Regions from separate parts of the Homo sapiens genome. Here all the other regions are linked to region 6. Evidence: fine-mapped expression QTL. A gene starts in region 6. Each other region holds a variant in brackets. All regions are shown on one strand. Distances are from middle to middle. Region 1 holds the start of PLXNC1-AS1 (PLXNC1 antisense RNA 1). Region 2 overlaps PLXNC1 (plexin C1). Region 3 overlaps LOC124902986 (a long non-coding RNA gene). Region 4 overlaps PLXNC1 (plexin C1). Region 5 holds the start of LOC124902987 (a long non-coding RNA gene). Region 6 holds the start of PLXNC1 (plexin C1).

Region 1 (4,089 bases), 27 kb before region 6:
ATATTTACATATACAGGTATTTTTACATATATAACATATATGTTTACTGTGTTTTATGTTTCAACAAAAGGGAGGAAGAATATCTTCACTCTTTTGCCTGTAGACAGATATAAACTATCTCTGGAAAGATACCCATGAAACTACTATCATTGGTTGCCTTGGAAGTCAAGACCAGGTGCCTTTCACGGAATATTTTCTTGGTTCTTTTGAGTTTTAAACAATATCATTGTATTACCTTAAAAATAAATATATAACATTTAAATTTAAAAATCCTTGAGGGTGAGTGAGTCAAATTGTTTTTCTTTTTGCTAGATTATGCAAACAATGCTCTCCATAATCCTGAGGACAGGACAAGAGGAAGTTTTAGTTTTCACCACAAAGGTCCCAAATGTGCTACACAGAGGGGTGAGGGATTTCTGCTTCCGTGGCCCCTGGAGTCTCATCTCTCTCAGATGACTAAAGGACAGGTCAGTGTTCATATCATCTCTCACCTAGCCCGAGCCCCAGCCCACAGGCACTAATGGAACACTTGGACTTTCTAATTGCAAACTTCAGGAGAATATCAACACACAGACAAAAGCCAGCAAGACTGGAGCAAGGGAAACGTTCCTTCCTCAGCTCAGTTTAGGTGGGCAGCCTCGGAAAAAGAACATGATCAGTGAAGCAATGCAGGAAGTAACAATGAGTCACAAAAACCCAAAACGGGTTGAATTTTGCATAAGAGAAATCTCATCCAATTCACACACACAATCCTTGGGCACGATGTGGATTTTTATCTTCCAGGATACGACCTTAATATAGATCTAATCTGAAGTCAATCTGAACCTTCTCCATGTGTATGCTTGTATACTCCTTTATCTTTCAAGTCTCCAACATCACCTCCTCTGAGAAGCCTTCCCTGATCACTTCTCCGCTGAACACCTCTGTCACTCTCTACCCATCACTGTATTTTCTTCATAGCACTATCTGAAGTGTCTTTATCGCTGATTAATCCATTTACTTGTTTTCTGTCTTTTTCTTCCCACCAGCAGAGCAAGGGCATTGTCTGTTTTGTTCACCTTTGTATATTCAGCACCCAGAACAGTGCCTGGCACATACAAGGTGCCCAGTAGATATTTATTAAATGAAAAACGACGCTATTAGCATTCAAGATTTTATAGGGCTCTTCAGCTTTTTCCAGCTGAAGCCTGTGTAGAAAACAAATTTTCTCTGATGGAGAATTTCAGTTCGTGTCAACATATTGTTTCTGTTGATGTCTTCCTGAAGCCTCATGGTAGACTATTAACGAGCCTTGGGATTTTTGTTGCATATAAAACTCCCAACTACACTGCTGAAATTAACTGAGTGGAGATTTCAACACCATACAATTGTAAGACAGGTTCAAGATCACCCACAGGAAGGATATCATGGTGAGGAAAATGAGGGGGGAGAAAAATTAAACAAAAAACTATTTTTTTTTCTTTACGATTACCATGAGATGGAAAAGCCACGGGTGTTCAAAAAGCTATAATATTTTATGCCAAATTTAATTTCCTATGCCTCACTCTGTGGGGCTAACCAGTTGAAGGGCAAACAAGCCAACCCTTTCATTTATTATTATTTTTTTCCATAAGCAGTTTCTGAGAAATGCTGGGAAGGAGACTTAAACCACACATACACACACACAAGCTCACACACACATATGCACGTGCATGCCTGCATACATATACACACACGTGCATGCCTGTGCATGCGTGCACACACACACACATGCACACACAGGAGAAAGCAAGGTAAGTATTTAATGTGCCTCAGTAGTTAGGAGTAACAAAGATGAAATATAAAGATCAAGGCAAATTTCTCTTTTGTTTCCAATCTACTTATTGCAGTGTAGGTAGTAAGAGAAGCATACAGTCTGAACCACAGGTTCTAGATTTGTGGATTATATGGGACTAAAAGTTTCAAACTGGGGAGTCCCTGCAAACTCATAAATTGCAATTAATGAGGTGGGGAGAACTTGAAGCAGGCTTCACATGACATCCTAAACAGCCAACCAATGAAC[C/G]CACTTCCAAGTTTTGACACTTCCTCCTGTTTTAACTTTTTGGTCTGTTAGCTCAGTCATCCCCACCACCACCACCACTTCCGGTCCCAGGTCCTGTTCTAGGTTCCCCAAGTTCTCCTATTCCTTATTTGAACATCTTCTGGGTATATAGTACAGCTTGCCTTTACAAAAGATTTTTTTCTCTGACATTCATTCAAAAACTTCAATAACCAGAGTCAAGGCAGACTCTTTAGGCAGTACAGAGTTTTTGCTTCTGTTTGAATTCAGACAGAACTTTTTGGAACCGGTTTAATTTTGCTGTGATTTGAATAAACGAAATCCCTGAGTGGCGCCGTGTGCAGTGGCTCATGCCTGTAATCCCAGCTCTTTGGAAGGCCGAGGTGGGAGGATCTCTTGAGCCTAGGAGTTTGAGACCAGCCTGGGCAACATGGCAAAACCCTGTCCATACAAAAAAATTAGCCAGGTGTGGGGGCACAGGTCTGTAGTCCCAGCTACTCAAGAGGCTGAGGTGGGAGGATCGCTTAAGCCTGGGAGACAGAGGTTGTAGTGAGCCGAGACTGCACCACTGCACTCCAGCCTGGGCAACAGAGCCAGACCTTGGCTCAAAAAAGAAAAAAAAATAAACAAAAGAAAGCCATTAAGTGGGAGTAGAGGGCCACATAGGTAACCAGTCTGAGCCCAAGCACATAGGAAATACCTCAAGACTGGATATGGGGACAGGATAGAGCTATGTGATATAGCTTCCTGTATCCTGAACCCTACTGCAGTCCCTGGGAGGTCGGGGAGACACTAGTCTTTACTGCTGACACCATTCAAAACAGCAACTTGAATACAGAATTCCTACCTTTCCTACAAAGGAGCCCACTGGGGTAAAGCTGGGGCCCCAAAGGAGATTCAGAGACCCCCGTGGACTACGCGCAGCTCAGAGAGGAGCGGGCTCTGCACTCAGCTGGGTTGCCAGGAAGCCATCCCCAAATAGGAACAAACTAAACCACAGGGTTCTCGGCCCCTTCTTATGAAACCTCAAACATCTGCATCTTGGTATCAACCCTTATACCCCAGTATTAGAAAGAAATATAACAAAAACCAGCTCTCAAACTCTACTAAGCTCTGTAAGAGTTAATGCAGTTTAGTTGGGGGATAGAAGCTCGGGCTCTGGGACAGATTATTTTGGTTCAGAGCACCTTGAAAAAGATACCTAACCTCTCGAGGCCTCAGGTTTTTTCATTTATAAAGTGGGGATGGTGAGAGTATTGACTGGTAAGGATTAAACCAGTTAACCCGTGCAGATGCTGGTTCTAATGCCCAGCACACAGGAAGAGCTCAGAAATGTTAGCGATTATTCTTCCTTGCCCATTGCCTTCTTATCTTTTATGCTTACACGAAGGTTAATGGGCATGCATAAAGTTACAAATTTCAAATTTCATGCATATTCTGTTATTACTTACTTTACCACCTGGAAAAGCTCAAAATATGCAATTCTGCCTTTGAAATAAGGACAATTTTCTATGGGCAACAGAGTCAGCTCAAAGGAATCCAAACCACATGATAGGCTGTACTATAATCTGGAGAAAGACTCGGTGTGTGTTTACAGAAATGCATACATTGTGCAACACGTGCAGTGTGAATTCCCCAAAGCTGAGTTCAGTGTGACCATACTTTTCAGCTGATCTCAGTGGAGATGCTGACGACTGAAAAAAACCCGGCATGCAATCATGTTCCGAAAAGAAGCAGGATGGGGAAATAACTGCGGGGGTGACTAGACATAACTCACCTCACGACCATGGGACGGTACACCGATAAAATAAAAGAGCAGATTAGATGCTCTCAAAGGACCCTTTGAGCTCTAAATTCCTTCTATTTCCCCAAAATCTTATAAAGGGACTTAGGTCTATAGGCAAGAGAAGGAGGACAGTAAAGGTACTGGCATACTGTAGCCTTTAGTTTCTTCACAGATTATCAGTGAAATCTTACCTTTGGAGGTAATGCCGTCTTCCTTGGAAAATGCATGTCTTTAAAGATACTTTAAAAGTGATCCAGTATCTTAG
Region 2 (4,089 bases), 120 kb before region 6:
AATCGGGACAGTGGGTTGTTTAATTACGGGGCTAATGGATCTTCTGCAAGGACAAACTAAATGGAACAGAAGCAGCCAGCACTGGTAGGCAGAGCACTGTTAAAGGAAGTATACTAGTAAGAAACTCCTGGTGGAGACACCTAGGGCTCTGTTGTATATGAGATATTTTATTAAACGTAATTGTCCCAAAATGGTAACTGCTAGAGAAAGAGACAGACTGGGGTAGGCTGGCATAAACCTTCAATAAATCAAATTGGAGGCATTAATATTTCTGCAGGCATGTACTTGTGCTTTTTCAAGAATTTCTAATAATCTTGAAAACTTTCTTATAGATAGGAGAATGAAGGCAATAATATTTTTGTCGGAACAGTTTTCCAGGGTGCCAAGATGCTCTCTCTCAGATACAGCAGATTGGCAAGCTCGTTTTCTAAGAGTTCAAAAAACCATTTCACACTTAACTTTGATTACAAGTCAACCTTCTCTTGCTAATTCAGCACGCTTGCTACGAGTTATTGGTTTTTCTCATCTCTTCCTGAAAGTGAAGCAAATGTCCCTTCTCCCATGTGAAATCCTCAAACTTTCACTAACTCCTCCAAAGTTCCACTCTTGACAAAACGTAAGCTGAGTGAGTCTGAGATACTCCATCAACAAAATCAAACATGTTCAAAATTTTGCAAAGGGGAAAAAAACCCAGCAGAGCAATAGGTCTTATTATCGGCCGGATGCAGTTGCTCACACCTGTAATCCCAGCACTTCGGGAGGACAAGGCAGGTGGATCACTTGAGGCCAGGAGTTCAAGACCAGGCTAGCCAACACGGCGAAAACCCGTTTCTACTAAAAATACAAGCATTAGCCTGGCATGATGGCAGGTGCCTATAATCCCAGGTATTTGGGAGGCTGAGGCAGGAGAATCGCTTGAACCCCAGAGGCGGAGGTTGCAGTGAGCCAAGACTGCGCCACTGCACTCCAGCCTGCACTAGAGTGGTATTCCTTAAATTAAAAAAAAAAAAAAAAAAAAAAAAGGTCTTATTCTCTTCCAGCTGTCTGATCTGAATTCCTAGATATTAAGGAAAGACTAAAGTCCTGTGTGTGCACAGCCCTACCCCTGGTGCTGACATTAGGGAGGATGCAGATATCAGGGCATTCTGTCTCACTGTTGCCTCATTAAACACCAGCCTGGAATGCTTGATAGAGAAGGATGGTTTCTTATGGTCCTGGAGGAAGTATGGCTCTAGGGGACTTTGCTTGGATTTTTGGCAAGACAGAGGAATTTTCTTCTCAATATGCAAGAAGAGAACATTACTTCCCAGGGCCTCTTTGTTAGTGTCATGATTTCATGTATAAGAAATTGGCAAGATGCCTTTATGTTCTAGAAAATCCCCCACACCTCAGGGAGAACACATCCTCATCTGAGAGGTGTGAAAGCTAACTTTTAGATTGCTATATGAGGTGCTGTGCTTCTGAGCATTTAGCTGAACACGAGTGTGGGGGCCTTTTTTCCAAACGTGTCCCTGCCTTGGCACCAGGTTCTGTCATTTCAAGTGGTTCGTGAGGATGCTCTTGATTTCCGACTTTCCTTTCCTTGAAAGAATCTGCCCCCAACCTCCCACCTCCCCAGCACACAAGGACACACAGAATCAGTTTGTTCACCGCACCTTGGTTTTCAATTACATAAACCACCTCAGGCAAATTTGGGAAATCAAGTCCTAAAATGGCTGGGTGTACATGCTTGGGAGGGGTAGGTGGGGGAAGTGAAAAAGAAGGGGAGGAGGGAAGGGAGGAAGAAAGAAAATTAGAAATATGGTGGTTCAGGCTGGGGGAAATGCCTGAAAGGAAATGAAAAACTTAAATTTTTTATATTGACCTTCTGCTAACAGTTTGTCACACAAGCATAGAACGGATCATGTGCCTTCTCTGCAGCTTCTCGTACAACTGCCAACCATGAAAGGGGGGCTGGGCCAGGCCCCATAAGAGGCACTAACAATCATTTTTAAAGGCAAGGCCCCTAAAAACAAGTGGCCCATTCCTTTTCAAGGCTCAAATCTTATGTACCGGCAAATCTGAATTTGAAAAGGAAGATTTATGTGGATTTCTGAAATCATGATTTTCCATTACCCTTTTCCCCAGGGGCTATAAAGAAAAAAAAATTTCAAGAGTCGACATGAATTCCTTCAGCATCAAGTAACATTATGATGATGAGTCGAGTGTTAACAAATCAGAAACACATGGTCTTAATTGACTGTGAAATAAATAATGTTTCGAAATGAAAGGGAGAAAACACGTTCAGATGTAAAGCATTAAAAAGGCTTCAAAACCTCAAAAGTTGCCTCAGACATCTGACCTCTTCCTGATTCCAACCCATCTTCTCCTTTCCTGTCTTTCCTGTTTGGGTCCGGTGTTGTCTCATGACTG[A/G]AATGCTGGAGGATTCCCGACTATAATCATTTGCAAATATTTCTCTTTGGAGACCTTTGGGGCTTCTAAAACGTCTTAAAGTAAAGGCATGAACATCTTCTAGGTTAGGAATAACAAGCCCAGGATCAGCGAAAGGTGAGTCAACAGGCCCTGTGCAAAGTTTGTCTCTTGTTCTCCAAGATACCCAGTGGTGTCCAGGCTGAACACACATCAGAGATATCTGGAAGGTTTACAAAATACATCCACGCCTGGGCTCCCTCCCCAGAGATTCTGATTCAGTCAGTCCCGAGGGAAAGCCCGGGCACTGGTATATTTGCACCTGCATTTTAAACAAGGGTTCAATGAGATCTGGATCAAATGGAATAAAGTTTTAGGTAGCACTCACATGCCTGGCAATGTTCTAAGTGCTTTTTATAATACTGACTCTTAATCCTCAAAACACCTCATGAGATGGGTAGGAACCATGACCATCATTTCCATTTCACATGTGAGGAGAATGAGGCATAGAGAGGTTTAGAAACTTGCCCAACATTACACAGCTAACCAGTGGCAGAGGCAGGATTCCAAAATGTCTGGCCCCAGAGTCCATGCTGTTAACCACTCTACCAACAGTTGTTAAGCAGCACCCGCAGCATCAGGAAGCTGGTTAGGGAAGTGAATTCTCAGGCCACAGCCTGGATTTACTGCATCGGAAACTCCAGCATGCTGCCTAGCGACTGGTGTTTAGTGAGCTTTCTGGGCGATTCTGCTAGATGCTCAAGTTTGAGAACCAATGCAGCCCACTCTCCGGCCTCTCAGATGTGGATGGGTGTATTGATACAATTCAGAACGCTGAGAAGTGTTGACTTTCAGCTCAGCTTCCCGCTCTCGGATGGCAGCTGTGCATGGTGCCATCTTTGATGGAGAAGTGAGCCGCATCTGGCAGTGGCAGAAAACTTGAAACAGCTGACCTACGGACTATTCTCCCACCAGAGGACATAACCATAACACGCTCCACGGCAAAGTGGTGCCTTCTCCAATTAGGGAATGAATTCTTCCCAGATGACACTGCAGTCCCCACCATCCAGAGCAAAGCCACAGAAGACTCAGCTCTCTTAATGAGCAATTCCCAAACCCCACTGTAATCTTTTCCTCCTCCACTAACGAGATCGTGAAGAAGCCCAGAATCTTCATAAAGCTAAAGATCAAACCAAAACACAGCAATCTCTTCTCCAAGTCTCTACTAACAGAAAAGCATAGAAAATTCCTAATTCTAAAGTTACCTTCCCTGCTTGGCTCCCTCTCTGAAATTCCCAAATGTGCCCCAAACTGGGCTTTCTTTCTTTCTTTAGGAAGAGCATGGGGTGGGTGCGGTGGGGATGAATTAGAAAGAAGTTCTCAAGCGGGTGAAACCCTCCAGCAGCTAGGCAATCATCTTCCTGTAGTGATTTACAGCGTTCCTCTAAAAATATCTATGAGATCACAGTACATTAAGTGCATGACACCAAACATTTGTAACTAATCCATGAAAATAAAGGGCGTCACGTTGCATGGGGAACGTGGTGGAATTTGTCTTGTGTTATCATTCTAAAATAAGACGGCCTCAATTTGATTGAAATATATCTTCACACATTGTCTTCCCAGAGCAGAGCCATTTGAGAAATTCTGATTGCAATTATAAGTGCTGAATAGGGAGTA
Region 3 (4,089 bases), 33 kb after region 6:
TAAATTTCAAAAGTATAGTATGCCTCTGTTGTACTAGGAATACTTAAGCAGAGCGAATTCAAGAAACTTAAAATCACAAAAAGAACTGAACAGATTCTACCTGTTCTGAACCCTGAATGGATTCTCCTGGTTCCCATTACTAGCCTGTGTTCCCTCAAACATGGTGTGTGTGTGTGTGTGTGTGTGTGTGTGTGTGTGTAACTCACAGACCCTTGGTGATCTTCTGAAAGCCTCCATCAGTTTCCTCTGGCCCTTATTCTTCTGGTCCAAAGTTCAAGACTTTGCTTCTTACTAAAGGATATCTTTCTTTCTTTTTCTTTTCTTTTCTTTTTTTTTTTTTTTTTGAGATGGAGTCTTGCTCTGTCACCCAGGCTGGAGTGCAGTGGTGCAATCTTGGCTCACTGCAACCTCCGCCTCACAGGTTCAAGTGATTCTCCTGCCTCAGCCTCCAGAGTAACTGGGACTACAGGCACGTGCCACCACACCTGGCTAATGTTTGTATTTTCAGTAAAGACAGGTTTTCGCCATATTGGCCAGGCTGGTCTCCAACTCCTGACCTCAAGTGATCCACCTGCTTCAGTCTCCCAAAGTGCTGGGATTACAGGCGTGAGCCACTGTGCCCGGCCCTGAGGGTATCTTTCAAAATCTCATCTTGTCCCTACTTTTTGGAAGATTGATTTTTGTGGACTGAATCTGAAATGATTCTAATTATTTGTTCTCCTTAAGACTCGTATTAAACAATCATCATATGATTTTTGCTTAGTTTAATCTTTATTTAAACATGATTGTGTGTTATTTTCTTAATTTAACTTCAAATTCCAAATACATTAGGGATAGGAAGCTCTTTGAAGAGCAAGAACATTTTCTTATTTTTTATATTTCTAGTGCCCTATGCAGTGCCTGGCACTTATTTGCCTTAAATAAATGGTGTTGGGTAAAGGAATACAACTGATGTAATAATTTCAAGGTGCAGAGTTAAAGTTTATTCCAGTGGTAGTTCATAGAATGGAAGACCATTACTCATATAATAGGCCACCTTTGTATAACCCTTATTGTATACCGGGCTCTAGTCTAGCACTTTATATATGTTCACTAATTTCATCTTTACAACAATCCTATTCAATAGATACTGTCATCCTGGTATTACAGATGAGGAAATTACGGTGCAGAGAAGTCAAATGACTTGCCCATGATCATCACACAGCCAGGAAATGAGAAAACTAGGATTCAAATTCAAATACTCTGGCTCCAATTCATGTGTCTGTTGTCTCTCTACTCTACTATTCTTCATGATCTACTAATTAGGGAGAAAATGGAATTTTTCCCCCTATCTCACATCCTACACAAAAATAACATATTAGATGATTTCATATGATCTTCTGCCAATCAAATAGCTAAAAGGCAATAAATAATCAACATGGGAATTACCAGTGAATTTGGGCCAGCATTGAGGCACATAAACCATGGGAATTAGTGAGGGAAGACAGAAGTTGTCTTCATCTCCTGGAGGTATGTACATGTTTATGAGTGTGCGTGTACGTGTATGGGTGAGGAGGGATTGCGAGGGAAGAGAGAAGAAAGAGAAGGTGGAGAAAGGGCAGAGAAATCTTAGAAAAGGAGGAACTCCCTTTCTAGCCTTTGTCTCTGAGGCAGCCCCAGTCACAGGAGTGCAGGGGTAGGTCCTAGTATCAGATAATAGCCACTCCTGTGGCTTATGGTCACCTGATTATTGCCACTCAGAGATGTAGACCCGGTTTTCCAGATCTTTAATTTTTAAAGAGAACAAGAAACCTGCATTTTTATGTGAAATTTCCTGATTTTAAAAACAAAACACCTCTCCCTACTGAAGGCCAAGTCTATCAGCTTGAAGACTCAGATCTTAGACTTCAGGAGGTTCCAGGATTCAGAACTGTAAAGACTTATTTATGATCCAGAATTAAATGGAAATGTCTACATCTGAGTTACGGCAATGAACCGTCTGATTTTTGTGGCCCCTCCCCAGGAGCTGAGTTGGATTTGTTGCAGAATTCCTACTCGTATTTTCCAAATATCATGCACGTAGGCCCCACATCACAGTTTCTTCCTGCGTTTGCCTACCATGCAT[A/G]TCATGATTCACTGAATGCTTTTCTCTTTATTGGCTCTATATTAATTCCCTTTTAAAAACTTAGGCCAACATAGCCTATAATAAAATCATAGGTTTCATGTGCTAGACAGATTTTACTCTAAGTGCATTAAAATAAATAGACAGCTAGTAGAATAAATATTGCTCATTTTGTCTACCACTTAAAATCGTCCTCTGATAATATGCTTTTCATCATTGGAAAGCATTGCCATTCTGAAAAAGACTCTTCAGTCAAGGCTAAGATGGAACGTTAGAGAAGGGGAAAGAGACATTGATTGTGCTAGGCTGGGAGAGGAGGAGCAGGAGGATCCCTGAGAGAGACAAATTTTATTCCACTCGATAAGAAATATGGGAACTTTATAGCTTTACTGTTAAGGATGCACTGGGATTTTATGAAAGAACTCCCCCGCCCCCATCACTGGTTTAGAAAAATCTCTGCCTATCTCCCATATTTTATTTGCCTGTTATCTCCCTACTACTAAAAACAATTTGCATGAAAACCATCAGACTCTTAGCTCACAGGAGTCCTTGGGCTCCTGCTGTTTTCTTGCTTGCTCAGGCTGGTGCTTTGTCTGTGGTTTAATCACAAACTCCTGCTTTGGGTACCGTTAGGAACCAGCAAGTAGTGGAGCCAAGTTTCAGACACGTGGGGACGTGGCATTTCCATCTAGAATCCTTGAAGGCTGATTCCCAGGAGAGAATCCTTGGAAATGTACCCTCAGGAGGGCTGGAAATGAAGTGACTGTAAGCATGCAGGGAGGTGGGGACTGAATTTTATAAAGTAAGTGGTACAAGGGGCTTTCTACTCTAGGGTGGTAGAGCGGGGAGTTTTGTGTCACTGCCAGGAAAGAGTCCTTGTTCCAAGCATCTTGCTTTGGGCAGAAATGACAAATGGACATTCACCAAGGTTCAGTCCTTGGTACTCTTGGTGGGTGACACTTCAAGACGCTGCTAGATAACACTTACCCTGGAGAGAATTTGTTTTCTAGGAGTGATGATGAATATTCTTTCTTCCTTTTTTTTTTTTTTTTTTTGAGGCAAGGTCTTGCTCTGTCACCCAGGTTAGAGTGCAGTGTCATGACCATGACTCACTACATCCTTGACCTCCTGGGCTTAAGCGAGCCTTCTTCCTCAGGCTCCTGTAGGTGGAATTACAGGTGTGCACCACTACGATCAGCTGATTTTTAAATTTTTTGTAGAGATGGGGTCCCATTATATTGCCCAGGCTGGTCTCAAACTCCTGGGCTCAAGCGATCCTCCTGTCTTGACTTCCCAAAGTACTGGGATTATAGGCATGAGCCGCCATGTTTGGCCTATCTTGCTTTTTAAAGTAAAATTTAAAAAAAAAACTATAAAAACAATTTTTCAGGACAGAGACCACGTTTATGTTCTGCCCATCATTAAATTGCTAGTGATGCCTCGTGTTTAATAAGTGCTTGAATTTTAGTTCAATTAAATCAACTCACTTAAATTATTTATTAAGTTAGCACATTTTGGGAGAAATGGAGTAGTATAAAAAGGAGATAAAAACCAGCAATAGTGCCACTAATAGATAGCCTGTTAATATTTTGCTGAATTTGCTTCTAGTCTTTTTATTTGCATATACATTTTTCCAAATACAATTTAGATCATGCTTTATGATGAATTTTGTATTCTGTCTTGAAAATTAATGTTCCACCAAGAGACATTTCCAAGATCATTAGTCTGAAGAAACATTACCTTTAATGATCATATGACACTCCAATATTGTGTGTACCATTGTTTATTTAATCATTCTCATATTGAGTGGTCAGAATGTTTTCAAGTTTTCAACTGGGACCCGGAACAATAGAGGCTCATTGCATGCATTGTGCTTTTCTTTTCTTTTCTTTTTTCCCCGAGACAGAGTTTCGCTCTGTCACCCAGGCTGCAGTGCAGTGGTGCAACCTCAGCTCACTGCAAGCTCCGCCTCCTGGGTTCACGCTATT
Region 4 (4,089 bases), 32 kb before region 6:
CCCAGCCTTTTTTTTTTTTTTTTTTTTTTTTTTGAGACAGGGTCTTGCTCCATCACCCAGGCTAGGGTACAGTGGTTTGATCATGGCTCACTGCAGCCTTAAACTCCTGGCCTCAAGTGATCCTCCTGCCTCAGCCTCCCAAAGTGCTGGGGTGACAGGCATGAGCCACTATGCCCGGTCAGTAACACATTTCATTAACACTGTTTTCTACACTTGTGTGTATGTATATGTACACAATTCTATGCACCTAGACAGAGATCATGCAAAGAATAGTGACTAATGCATAGTAGAGACTCATTAACAATTAGTTTCTTTTCCCCTTCCCTTGGTGACAGCACTTGGTAAAGATGAAGAAAATATAAAAATATATTACTTTTATTTCAGTAAGCAGAAGCAAAAGAAAAGCCAAAACAGCAAGATAAATGAAGAGGGGGAGGGGGAGTACCATATATTTCCTGGTTCATGAATGTGTATGAGACTGTGGCCTGATATTAACCCCAAATTCCAAAGCCAGTCCCATTGGGTATATTCATAAATGCATCTAACCGTTCAGTGCCCACACAATAAATGTGTAAATTCAGTTACCTTGCTGATTATGCGCCCATTTCCAAGCACACCCTCCTCTGAAAAACTTGGCACTGGAAATATAGCCAATAATAAAATTGTCTAAATAGATAATATTTCTTGCTTACTTACTGACAGTCAGTAAGGTTTTTAATTCCGTGCCTGTGAACCACTGCGGGTCTCCTCAAAGCCTGGGGCACTGCTTAAACTCTGTAGTTCAAAGTAAAAGCTTTGCTACTAGATAATGACATCAATTAAACCATTTTTATTCATAAATCAGAAGCAATAACTAGTATTTCTACCTACCTCTTTCCCAGCTGTTAGATAAATGTAGATATTCTTCACAGGATCAGGAACGAGTTTGTAGAAAACAGGTGTCTCTTCTTTAATTTCATAGATAACCTCTGGACAATTTGAAGTCAAATTCTCACCAAGAATAACCTATTTTTTTTTTTCAAAAAGAGAAACATGATTTCTATTTAATACTTTTTTTTTTTTTTGAGACGGAATCTCGCTCTGTCGCCAGGCTGGAATGCATTGGCATGATCTTGGCTCACTGCAACCTCCGCCTCCCAGGTTCAAGCAATTCCACTGCCTCAGCCTCCCAAGTAGCTGGGACTATAGATGCACCACACCCAGCTAATTTTTTTTAGTAGAGATGGGGTTTCACTACGTTGGCCAGGATGGTTTTGATCTCCTGACCTCGTGATCCACCCGCCTCAGCCTCCCAAAGTGCTGGGGTAACAGGTGTGAGCCACCACTTCCGGCCTCTATTCAACACTTTGAATAGCAGGGTGGCAAAAATTGTAGCTTAATCATAAAGCTACATCCTTTTTCACTCACTACAAATACTGCCTAAGGTACCATGCTCCTTAATCATCCTCCCACATCTCAGTCCTCAACAAGGCTGGTAATAACAAGCATAATATTTCTTCTTTTGTAAAGGCAAAGTTACCAAAAATGAACAAACAAAAAAAGCCGCTCTTCAGGGCTGGGGTAGTATCCTCATAT[G/A]TGGAAGCTGGCTGACCACAATTTCTGACCATGTCTGGCCCTATAGGAAGCCACAAGTGACAGCTTCATTAGTGCTGTCTCAAGAGAGACTGGAAATTAAAGGAAGTAGCTCCCACATGTATTTGCACAGGATACTCTGATCATCATACAGTTAGAAGTGACCCAGATTAACTTGGCAGATACAGACAAGTAGGTTTGTGTTCACATATAAAATATACGCAAGTGTGACTCAGTACTCAGTGGTTTTGAAATTGGACACACCTGAGCTTCATCCATCTTCAGTCAACAAACATCTACCCAACACCCATTATGTACCCAGCACTGTTCTGGGTGTTTGAAAAATGGCAGTGAACAAAATGGGGAAGGGAGAGCTCCTGACCTCATAGAACTTACATTCCTGTGTGTGTATGGTGGGGTGAGTAACAGCAGACTATTAATAAGAAAAAAGTAAATTATAAAATATAGTGGGGTCAGGGGTTAAGAGAATATATGTTCAGGGTAGGTGTCACTGAAAAGGTGATATTTATTTAGACTTGCAGGAGATGAGTTATTTTCATACTTGAATGAAACATGTTCTTAAAAGCAGCCCTGTCAGTGCAAAGAAACTAAAATGGGAGGAGGCCAGGGTGGCTTCAGTGGAGAGAGGTAGAGGAGTGAACAGTAAGATAGTAAGATAACAGGGGAATGATAATCAAGGGTCTTGTGGGCCTGTGTAAACAGCCTGCCTTTTACTGTAGATGAGAGAGAGGAGGCCATGGCAGGGCTTTGGGTCAAGGAGCAAGAGGAGATGGTAAGAAGGCAGGGTTTGAAGTGTGGGTATGAAGAGCCATCGGGAGACTCGAATCCTATAGTGCTAGAGAAGTATAATGGTGGCTTAAGCTTGAGTTTGCATCCTGCCTCCATCCTTTAAGTAGCTGCACTACTTTGAACTGGTAACTTAATCTCCCTAGGCCTCAATTTCCTCATCTCTAAAATGGGGCTAATAGTGCCTTCCTTATTACAGTTTTGTAAGGATCAAATAAGAACTATGAAAGATGCTTAGCACATAATCAATAGTCAATAGATAATAATCTGTTACTAGATTGCAAGCTCCTTTTGCGCAGGGACCATGTCATTTTTTTTTTTTTTTTTTTTTGAGATGGAGTCTTACTCAGTCGCCCAGACTGGAGTGCAGTGGTGCGATCTTGGCTCACTGCAACCTCTGCTTCCCAGGTTCAAGCCATTCTCTTGCCTCAGCCTCCTGAATAGCTGGGACTACAGACATGCGCCACCACACCCAGCTAATTTTTGTATTTTTAGTAGAGACGGGGTTTCACCATGTTGGCCAGGCTGGTCTTGAACTCCTGACCTGAGGTGATCCGCTCGCCTCTGCCTCCCAAAGTGGTGGGATTACAGGCGTGAGCCACCGTGCCTGGCCTGGGACCATGTCTTAATCACCTTTGTACCTAACCTTTAATCTTCTTTGTACCTAACACAATTTGTACCCACTACTTTGAAAAGTGAAGGTGTTCAACATTTTGTCAGTTTGAACACATCCAGATAGATTATCTGTATTCATATCTCTACCACTGTAGACATCAGCCACATTGGGCGCATGGTTTCAAAAGAAAAATTTGGCACCTGAGATTCTTTTTGGACAAAGTCTACTTCACACATCTACTAATCAATAATATGCCTGTTCCCACATATCCTGATGGCAGTTAGGGATTTGCTGTTTAGCCAAAGGCTTCTTATCAATTTTGCACAGAGCAACTTCCCGCATTCACTTCTCCTTTCCAGGACCTGGGCCCGAGTCTAGCTTTGCCCTGCGATCAGTGACTTCCTTCCATCATCTGCTTGGGCCAAGCCCAGGTGGATTTGGTGCAAATAGTGGCTCACTTGAAGCCCTTGGACTGCTCATCAAATTCAGCAGCAGCTTTGTAAAAGTCAATCTCACTAACCAAACATATGAAATATGACTTCTTAAAAGCTCTTTTTAAAACAGAAGCAGTTAGGTCCTAAGGGAGGTGGGAAAGGTGTGTGTCTCAAGTCATTTTAAAACGACTTTATAGCTGCACTATCAAATATGACAGCCGCTAGCCACATAATGGCTATTTAAATTTAATTAAAAATTTACATTTAATTAAAAACACTAGCAACATTTCAAGTGTTCACTAGCTACCTAAGGTGACTGGCTACCATACTGGAGAGTACAGATGTAGAACATTTCTATCACTACAGAAAGTTCTCTTGGCCAACACTGCTCTACAGAATCCTGTAAGTGGAGCCAAGGGACAGGCACTGACCAAGGTATGGGCTTGCCAGGATTTGCCGTCTCTAATTCATTAGCTGTATTAATCAGCTCAGATTCAGTTGATCTGGTTCTGGAAAGCAGTTGTATAGGGAAAGAGAAACAGGAAGCCAGTTTTTGTTTTTTTTAAACAAACACTGATAGAAATATTATCAAGGAAGGGTCAAGAGAAGAGAAGCTGCTGCCCTGGTATCTCTTCAGGAATTCATCATGGCAAAAGCATC
Region 5 (4,089 bases), 91 kb before region 6:
GGATTTATCTGGGAGAGTTTATTTTGGGGTTTCCATCTCCCCCTTAGGGAACATCTTGAAAAGGTTGATTCTGCTTTTCATTTTGATAGCTCCCAATATTTCCCCCAAAGAATTCAAAACAGCTTAAAGTATCTAAAGTCTATAAAATGAAAGAGGTAAGAAAGAAGCCTTTTATCACAAGCAGGAGGGACACATAGTAAAGAGTGTCATATATCTATATCAAAAACCTAGGCAAACATTTCAGCTGTGAGTTTCTCAGCAGCCATGGTGAAGGGAAAAAGGTGTGCTCATAGCATTCACGATGAGCATGGGAAGCAAATGTCTTGTCAGGTATGCATTTTTCTAGGAGTAAATCCTAAGGAGAACTCGGTGAGAGGAATTTGGAATGACCACTGTTTCTGAATTTACTTGAATAAAATCAATGATCTTTGGGCATATGACCTTTAACCACAATGAGAAAAAGATTATGAATCTAGAAAGTACCTGATCCAGGTGGTAGCAGGAAATATAAGGGAACAATGTGGCAGAGCAATGTAGGATAAGGATCCCACAGAAGAGCAGTTCCCACCATCAAACTGGATACACACATCCTTCATTTCTTTCCGGCTTGATGGAAGAGAGAATTTCATGTGGGTGTCATTTAGCACATGGCTAACCTGTATCCTAGAAAAGAGTAGAAAAAGAACTCTCACATGACACAGACACTTAGCACAGTTGATTACCCAAGGTGACAGCAAATGAATTTCACTTGAACTACAACACTTCATGAAGGAGCAGAACAGCTGCAGGCAACTACTGACTCATGAGGGGCCAGTGACCCAAGTTGGTATTATTAGGGGTTGGGTTCCTCTTTCTTTAGTACATTTTTATCTTTCTTATTTGCATTGCCCTTAGAAGTGGGAAAGGAAGGAGGTGTAACCATTGCCCTGAAGAAGTACTAATAGAAAGCAGAACATGAACTGGGGGTTACATTATGTTAAGAATTGTGGATAATTCTGTTGAGTATCATAATGGCACTATGGCTTATCTGTTAGAGAGGTACTGAAGTATTTAGCAGTGAAGGATATGGTGTTTGGTTCTTATCATGCCCCCCCAAAAATCCCAGATAAGATAGATGAAGCAAGATTGGCAAAATGTTGATAGGCTTTGAAACCGGGAATGGCTACAGAGAGGTTCATTACACTCATCTCTCTTGTATTATGTTTGAGTTTCCATAATAAAAAGCTTAAGAAAAAAAGCCCTAGTCAAGCACTGAGAGGGTAAAACACAGCACCAGACAGAGATGGAAATTCTGCTGTTCAAAGGGGGCCTAAACCAAGAGCCCAGGCATCTCAGAATCAATCAGCATTGGGGCCAACATGCTCCCTAAGGAGTATCCAGGCTGGGACTTAGCTGGGGCTGTCCAGGGTGCTCCTGATGTCCAACAGCTGATGCTTGGCGCCCTTTCAGAGTCAGAGCGAAGCTTTCTCCGACATTCCCGCTGTCACCTGCAGCTTCCTCTGTGTGTCTACAATGATCCTCTAAAGCACAAATCATTAAGCCTGGGTTGTGTCTGAATAATGCTCAGTATAACCGTGCTACATGAGAATCTGTTATTACTACTTAAAGGCCATGTGCATGATGATTAACTTTAATGCTATCACTAACCCTTTAGGATAAGGCAAATTCAAAAACATCTGAGTCAGTTTGTACTTACGCCACCTCAGACGCACATTTTCAGGTTTATATTCAGAGCAAAGCTCTAGGAAATTTATCATAAAGTGGTTGAACATTAAAATTCAAACTTGTTTATAAATTTCAGAAGAAGAGAGGTGAAAATGTAGGTCATTCCACTACTAGTATTTTTCTCTTTAAAATAATTACCCATTTTAAAAGTACCATATTAAAAGAGCTTGGGATTACAGCCTGGGCTCAGGTATAGGATTAACTGAGTATTATGTTGACTGCTTGTGAACTTGGCTTCACCACACAGATGTGGTTACTGAAATGCGACATGCAGAAAGGTCTCCTAGTCATTTAATTTAATAACTGCAGTATCTCAAGACACATTCGGAATTAAAATGAGAACATAAAGAGTCAGAAACAGGGTAATGCTCCGAAAAACTACTTATTTTCCATGAAGTTGATTGCCTTTCAGTGAATACACAGGTGTCTAACTTCACAGATTTCGCTACATAAAATGAAAGATTTTTGCAATAAGGTATTTAGCCAGGATAAACAGCACAAAAAAACCTATGTTGCATAGATACAGCCTCTAATGTGTGCTTGATAATTCTGGCAAATAGCAGAACACAGGCAAGCCACCAATGAGCAGCTTTTCTCATCAAGATCACAGATATT[C/A]CAAATTTACTGCTATGAGGGGAAGGGCATGGCAGTGATGTGCAGAAAATGAATTAAAGAAGAAAATTCAGTAAATAAGCATAGCAGATTAGAATGCTGTACAAATCTGTTTTAGTAGTTAAAAATCAAAACATCACGCTTCAGCAGATTGTCTTAAATGCATTTCCATGATGAAAATAAGCTTAGTATTATACTCTATGTAGACTGTAACATCTTTTACTTCAAATTAGCCCAAACTTATATGAGTTAACAAGCAGAAAACTCAAATAATCTGTTGTGTTATTTAATAACTGCAGTTATCACATCACTTTTTTTTTTTCGAAGGGGGAGTAACCATTTGCACAAGGACATCGGTAGAAATTGAAAAGTCTTTCTCCAAGTTTCACCGATGTGATGAGTTTGGGAAAGAAGTGACAGAAATAATAATGTTCAAGAGATACATTGACCAGATATTTATGTTGGGGTGTTCTTTTTTACTACCATTATATGTAGTAGTAATTTAATTTTTGGAGGCTGAAACCAAACCAGTAAAGAGAAGGCTACAAAGAATAAAATGTCCACATAAAATGGATCCAAGAGGTTTTGTTTTTTCAACTTTGGGTGGCACACTGGAAGAGCTGCTCCAAAAAATTCCTCATCAAATTTCAAGGTACTCAACTATTTTTCCAAGTGCATCACCTAAAGAATGATGTTTGCTACTCCATATACTTGATTTTGTTACTGAAAATGAATCAAGACCCCAAACAGGCAACATCCTGAAATGACTATATACTGAGATTTTTGGGGAATAACACAGAACAGATTCTCTCACAATGAACTTCAGATCTGTTGTGAAAATTATTTTACGTGTTGGAATTATATTATGTCAAATACTCTGACTAATTGGCCTGCTTTGGGGCATGGCAATAATTTGACTATATTAAGGTTATAATCACACTGATATTCCTTTGGCACAGGTTTGAGCGTTACGTTACCGAGGATAAATTATTAGTATTTCGACTCACACATCCTTATCACAGGTACTGGTTCCTTTCAGGATCATTGTGATGTTCGATGCCCGGGTAAAGTTTGCTCCCGTTACTATCACGTTGCTTTTCCCTAATGTCGATACTTTCTGTGGCTCAATGGACTTAATGTAGAAGACCTATTGGAAAGAAAAGATTAAAACAGGAGATCAAAGCTAAGAAATGGCATCGCTCCAAAAAAATCTGTTTATACGCTGCAGTTCGAAGAAATCACTGGGAAATTACAACATTTTGCGAACACAAGCAGACAGTGTTTAATGAAATCAATGAATTCAAGGAAGAGGGCTGCAGATTCATGTCTCTCAACATGTGACAGCATGAGGTCAAACCAATTAGTCTTTGTCTCACAAGACAGTTGAAAATACAGTTGAAAAGTCTGATATTCTGTCTGAAGAGTGAGGTATCACTAGAGTTTTGAAAATGTTTACTGCCTTACAGCCTCTGGAGGCTCACAATGTAAGCAAAATCAAGGAAAAGAAAGAGAGTCCATTGACCGTAGGCCAATGACAGACTCATCGTTAAGTTGAAATAAATGTCATTCCAGATAAATTCAGTTCCCAAGAAAGCAGTCATATTTTTGTTACAGTGAGGCTATTTGAATCCAGGAGGATACTGCAGGGGGAAAAACCTCAAGAAATCAACCTGTTCAGTCACCTACTATCAAGTAGTTGGATGTCTAAACCACTGTGGCCAACCAAGGTTTGTAGATACCACAACCTCCTTC
Region 6 (4,089 bases):
GTGCTCCAGGTCTCGGGGACCGTCCGAGAGGAGCCTTCGGACGGCCGCCCGCGGTGTGAACCTGAGACCTGGTAAATGTCACCCGGCTGTACCCCCGCCCCGCCGCTCGCCCCCAGCTCGTTCTGCCTCGGCGGCGGCGGCGGCTCCCCGGCAGCAGCGCTCTCCGCGGCGCCCCGGGGGCAGGACTTACGCAGTGGCTCTCGGCCGTCTTGAAGTCCCAGCTGACCCTCTTGGCGCGCGCCTGGATCTCACTCATTCTGAAGAGGCAGAGCGCCGTGGTGGTGGGGGAGCGCCGCTCCTGGCCCTCTCCAGCGGCCGCGCTGAACACTCCCGCCCAGACGTCCAGGGCCTCCACTAGGCTGGAGGAGAGGAGCAGGCGGCGGCCGTCGGGGTGGCCGTGGCCGCAGTCGAGGGATGCCTGGCCCTGGAACAGCACCTCGGTGCTCTGCGCGATGCGCGCCATGCTGGGCCAGCCGGTGGCAGCGCCGCTCGTGTAGTTGTAGGGGTAGTAGGGGAAGTAGATGCTGCCGTTCCAGAGAAAGGCGTCCACGAAGTGCAGGCTGCCCGCGCCCTCGCACAGCTTGAGGCGCCCCAGCTCCTGCGTGGCCAGGCTGCGCCCCTCCGTGTCCTTGAGCGCGATGGCCGTGTCGTGGTCGGATGCCGCGGGGTTGCAGCGGCTCGCCGTCTCCGGCTCAGGCAGCACGTAGGTGGCGGCCACCGCCAGGTACCAGCGGTTGTTCCGGCCCGCGCGGTACACCACGCCGGCCGTCGAGCCCTGCGGGTGGCACGACACCACCTCGGTGCCGTTGCGCAGGGAGTTGCGGCTCAGGTTGCCCAGGGGCCGCACCTCGCAGGCGCCCCGGTCGAAGGTCCAGCCGGTGAGCAGCAGCCCCCCGAGGCCGGCCGCCCCCTCGCGGTAGGGCAGCAGCAGCTTGCTGAAGCTGCTCCCGGGCCGGGGCCGCGCGGGGGGCGCCAGCGAGACCGGCTCTGTGCAGTTGCCCGCTTGGTCCCGGTACAGGCGCGAGAGGCTGTGCTCCAGGCTGTAGTCCAGCTGGTCCAGGCAGCTGCCGCTCGCCACAAACACGCCGTCCTCCTGGCTCGCCGCGATGGCTCCGATGGCTTGCTCCGACCGCCACACGGGCTCGTCCGCGCCCCGGCCGGGAGCCGCCAGTGCCAGCAGATAGGCGAGCAGGGGCAGTGGCGCTGCGGGGCGCGGGGGGCGCGGCGGCGCCTTCCTCCGGGAGACCTCCATGGGGCTGGGGGGGCCGCCCCCGGGCAGGGCGCGCGGCGGCGACGGCGGCTCAGGCGCGCGGCAACGGAGACGCGGGCGGCGGCGGCGGCGGTTCCTGCGCGCGCTCGGGCTCCCGCGGCCGCCCCATCCCCGCAGCTCGCCCAGGAAGGAGAGCGGGGAGGGCGGCGCGCGGCAGGCTCGCTCCGGCAGCCTGTGCAGCGGCGGTGGCGGCAGCAAGCCCTGCGCGCTCCGGCACCGTTTCCTCCTCGCCCTCCTTCGCCGGAGAGTTCCTGTGTGCAGCGCTGGCGCTCGCGGGGAGGCGCGGAGGGGAAGGGAGGGGACGGGCGGAGAGGAGCGAGGCGGGCGGGGAGGGCTGGAGAGGTTGGGTGCGCTTGTGCGTTTCACTTTCCCATTGTGAAAGTGGGATGCAACTGGCCCCCTTCCTCATCCTCTCTTCCTCCTCCGCCCTCCGCCTCCTGCCCGCCCGCCCGCCCTCCCTCCACGCCCATCTCCCCTCCCCTCTTGATTCGGTGAGATAGGGAGGAGGGAGGTCTCGTAATTTGGGTTACTGTGTAGGTGGCCTCTTTCATCTATTCATAACAAAGCTCAGCCGCCCGCCGCGGCCGCCGCGGCCGCCACCATCGCCCCCTTGGCTCGCCTGGGGCTCCCGGGGCGCGCTAACGGCGCACGGAGCGGGCTCCCGCGCCCGTCCGCCCGCGGTGCTGCTCCAACGCCCGGTTTTGTTTACGACAGCAGCCGGGTCGGGGATACGCCAGGCGCGCGGAGCGAGGATCCAGGGTGCGAAGGGGTTGCAGCTGAGGCCCCGGGCTCGGGCCACAGGGCTGCTGCGAGAGCGGCTGACAGGTGTGGAGCGGCGAGAGGGAGGCCCCGGGGAGGCGCGCGGGAGACATGGCCGAGCCGGAGACTCCGGGGACCAAGGCGCCCCTGTGACAGGGTGTGGGTTTCCCCGGGTCGGATGAGTGAGGTGGCAGAAAGGCAGGCGCCACACTCTCGTTCTGGACAATCCCCAGGGCCGGAGCGCCCATATTTGCAAAGGTTCTCTAATCTCCCTTGGCAACAGAGTCCCAGGCTCTCAAGCCTAGCACTTGGAAAGTTCTGCTCACCATCTAACCTAATGAGCGGGGCTAACATTTACTGAGCACTTACTACGTGCCGGGTGCGCTTGTGAACTCACCACATGGGTTAAGACTCATAATTCTCATAACAGCCCTATTAATTAGTGACTGTTATTGTCATCCCTACTTAGTAGTCCAGGAGAATGGTTATAGAAAGGTTGTGGAACGTGCTGGCATTCTACTGCTGGTAGATATCAGAGCCGAGATTCGAATCCATATCTAGCCCCAGGGCCTCTTACATACCTGGCTCTAGTTAAGTGCCACCTGTGGCCATTGCCATAATCCCCCAGAGATCATTCTCTGTAGTGAGACTGAAAAGTTCCTCAAGTTAAATGCACCAACCAGCCCCCGCCCTGCTTTCTACTATTAGACCCAAGTCCCCGTATTTCCCTCGAGGCTCTCCATCTGTCTCATCATTACCCACTTTTATCCTTTGGACCCCCTGAGGTCTCACCACCTCACCCAGAGGGTGAATAACAGCTGGGTTGCCCCCACAGCCGCCAAGAATTTCTGAAGCACAGGGAATCATTGCCCACTGGGGAATAGGTTCATGATTTCTCGGAATGGGGCTTCCCAGAGGATGCACAAATGCCTCCCAGCTTCCCGGGGCAGCTGCGGGCACCATCAGCACCCTTACAGTCTGGCAGATGAGCCAGGGGGTGCATAGGAGTGGAGGGTGCTGAGGACCTCTATGGATCGTTGGGAAATGATCTCTGTTCCTTCCCAGGCTATTTCCAGACCCCAGGCCCCAGGGAGGGCAATTGGCTGCTATCCCCTTTCTTCCTTCCCTCCAAGTTCCCCAGCTCGAGATGCTGTTTTGGGAAGGGAAAGGAATGAGGTGGCTTTTGTCCCATGCTGAGTCCTGCCGAAGGTTGCAGGTTTCAAACTTCTCCAACAGTGCTTCAAGTTCTCCCCAGTGCTGAGGGATATGGCAGGAGTTCTGGAAGGCTTAAGGAAAGAAGGGTGAGGTGGAGGGAGAAGAAGAGAAGTGTGAGTTTCTGCTCTAGATGTGAAGTTCAAGGATCCTATCATTTCAGCAGTGGCTCTCATACACTAAAGTCAGAGTGGTCATCTTTTCATTCATAAGCCTTTCATTTGCAATTGGATAACATTATCTTTGCCTGGCAGGAGGCAGAAAATGCCTTCCCACGAGATATGAGGTTGCCCTTTGTGCTGTGATGATGGTGTTGGAGTGTCCATAAGGAGAGGGGAGGAAGAAGGGGAAAGGCCTAAAGTACCCAGTTGGTGTTAATCGGGACATCTCAGGCAAGACAAGTCAGATGTTTCACCTGCTCCAAAATATCTGGCCTTGCTCCCCCACTCCCTGCCCTCCTGGAATGCTTTCAGAATTTTTGCACCTCTGGAAGTGGGAAGATCAATATTTTAAAAACCTCATCCGAAGCTCAGAGACCCCCTCCACAGCATAGTAGGGGATTTATGCGCTGGTGTTTTGACAGTTTTCCCTGTGACTGATGCAGAACTCAGTGACCTTCACTGGCTCCGTGAACCAGCGGTGGCAGTGTCGCTATGTGCTGAGAAGCAACAGTTCAATTCCATTCCAGAGATAGTTTTACTTCACTGGTAACCAAGTCATTTCTCTAAGTCCCGTAGAGTTGGTACAATCAGTCACAGACCATCTTGGGAGCTATTTGGATTAAACATACTCTGTGGTGCGGCATTTTGATCACTACTCAGTTCATTGCTGCTTCATTTTGAAAAAGA

Evidence for each region.
Region 1: its variant is fine-mapped to the expression of PLXNC1 in whole blood (INTERVAL, PIP 0.93).
Region 2: its variant is fine-mapped to the expression of PLXNC1 in blood mononuclear cells (TOPMed, PIP above 0.99).
Region 3: its variant is fine-mapped to the expression of PLXNC1 in whole blood (INTERVAL, PIP 0.92).
Region 4: its variant is fine-mapped to the expression of PLXNC1 in whole blood (TOPMed, PIP above 0.99).
Region 5: its variant is fine-mapped to the expression of PLXNC1 in pancreas (GTEx, PIP 0.98).

The regions. Positions count from the first base shown.
Region 1 is chr12:94,172,759-94,176,847 of GRCh38, reverse strand. All of the region lies in intron 2 of PLXNC1 (plexin C1), which reads right to left. It overlaps PLXNC1-AS1 (PLXNC1 antisense RNA 1), which reads left to right and starts at 385. Exons shown (of 2, transcript XR_007063411.1): 1 at 385-467. The variant C/G (reference allele first, on the strand shown) is at 2,042.
Region 2 is chr12:94,265,522-94,269,610 of GRCh38, reverse strand. The region is part of intron 21 of PLXNC1 (plexin C1); the gene reads right to left. It also overlaps a transcript of CEP83 not described here. Among named protein-coding and RNA genes, the nearest start is that of PLXNC1-AS1, 91 kb to the right of the region's middle. The variant A/G (reference allele first, on the strand shown) is at 2,413.
Region 3 is chr12:94,113,478-94,117,566 of GRCh38, reverse strand. The region is part of intron 1 of LOC124902986 (a long non-coding RNA gene); the gene reads right to left. Among named protein-coding and RNA genes, the nearest start is that of PLXNC1, 33 kb to the left of the region's middle. The variant A/G (reference allele first, on the strand shown) is at 2,105.
Region 4 is chr12:94,178,362-94,182,450 of GRCh38, reverse strand. It overlaps PLXNC1 (plexin C1), which reads right to left. Exons shown (of 31, transcript NM_005761.3): 3 at 871-1,005. Among named protein-coding and RNA genes, the nearest start is that of PLXNC1-AS1, 3.9 kb to the right of the region's middle. The variant G/A (reference allele first, on the strand shown) is at 1,576.
Region 5 is chr12:94,237,059-94,241,147 of GRCh38, reverse strand. It overlaps PLXNC1 (plexin C1), which reads right to left. Exons shown (of 31, transcript NM_005761.3): 10 at 3,345-3,484; 11 at 484-663. LOC124902987 (a long non-coding RNA gene) reads left to right here and starts at 3,345. Exons shown (of 2, transcript XR_007063410.1): 1 at 3,345-4,064. The variant C/A (reference allele first, on the strand shown) is at 2,341.
Region 6 is chr12:94,146,135-94,150,223 of GRCh38, reverse strand. It overlaps PLXNC1 (plexin C1), which reads right to left and starts at 1,647. Exons shown (of 31, transcript NM_005761.3): 1 at 191-1,647. The coding sequence starts at 1,252. RefSeq lists silencers at 21-160, 821-1,060, 1,191-1,420, 1,491-1,740, 1,751-1,880 and an enhancer at 521-620.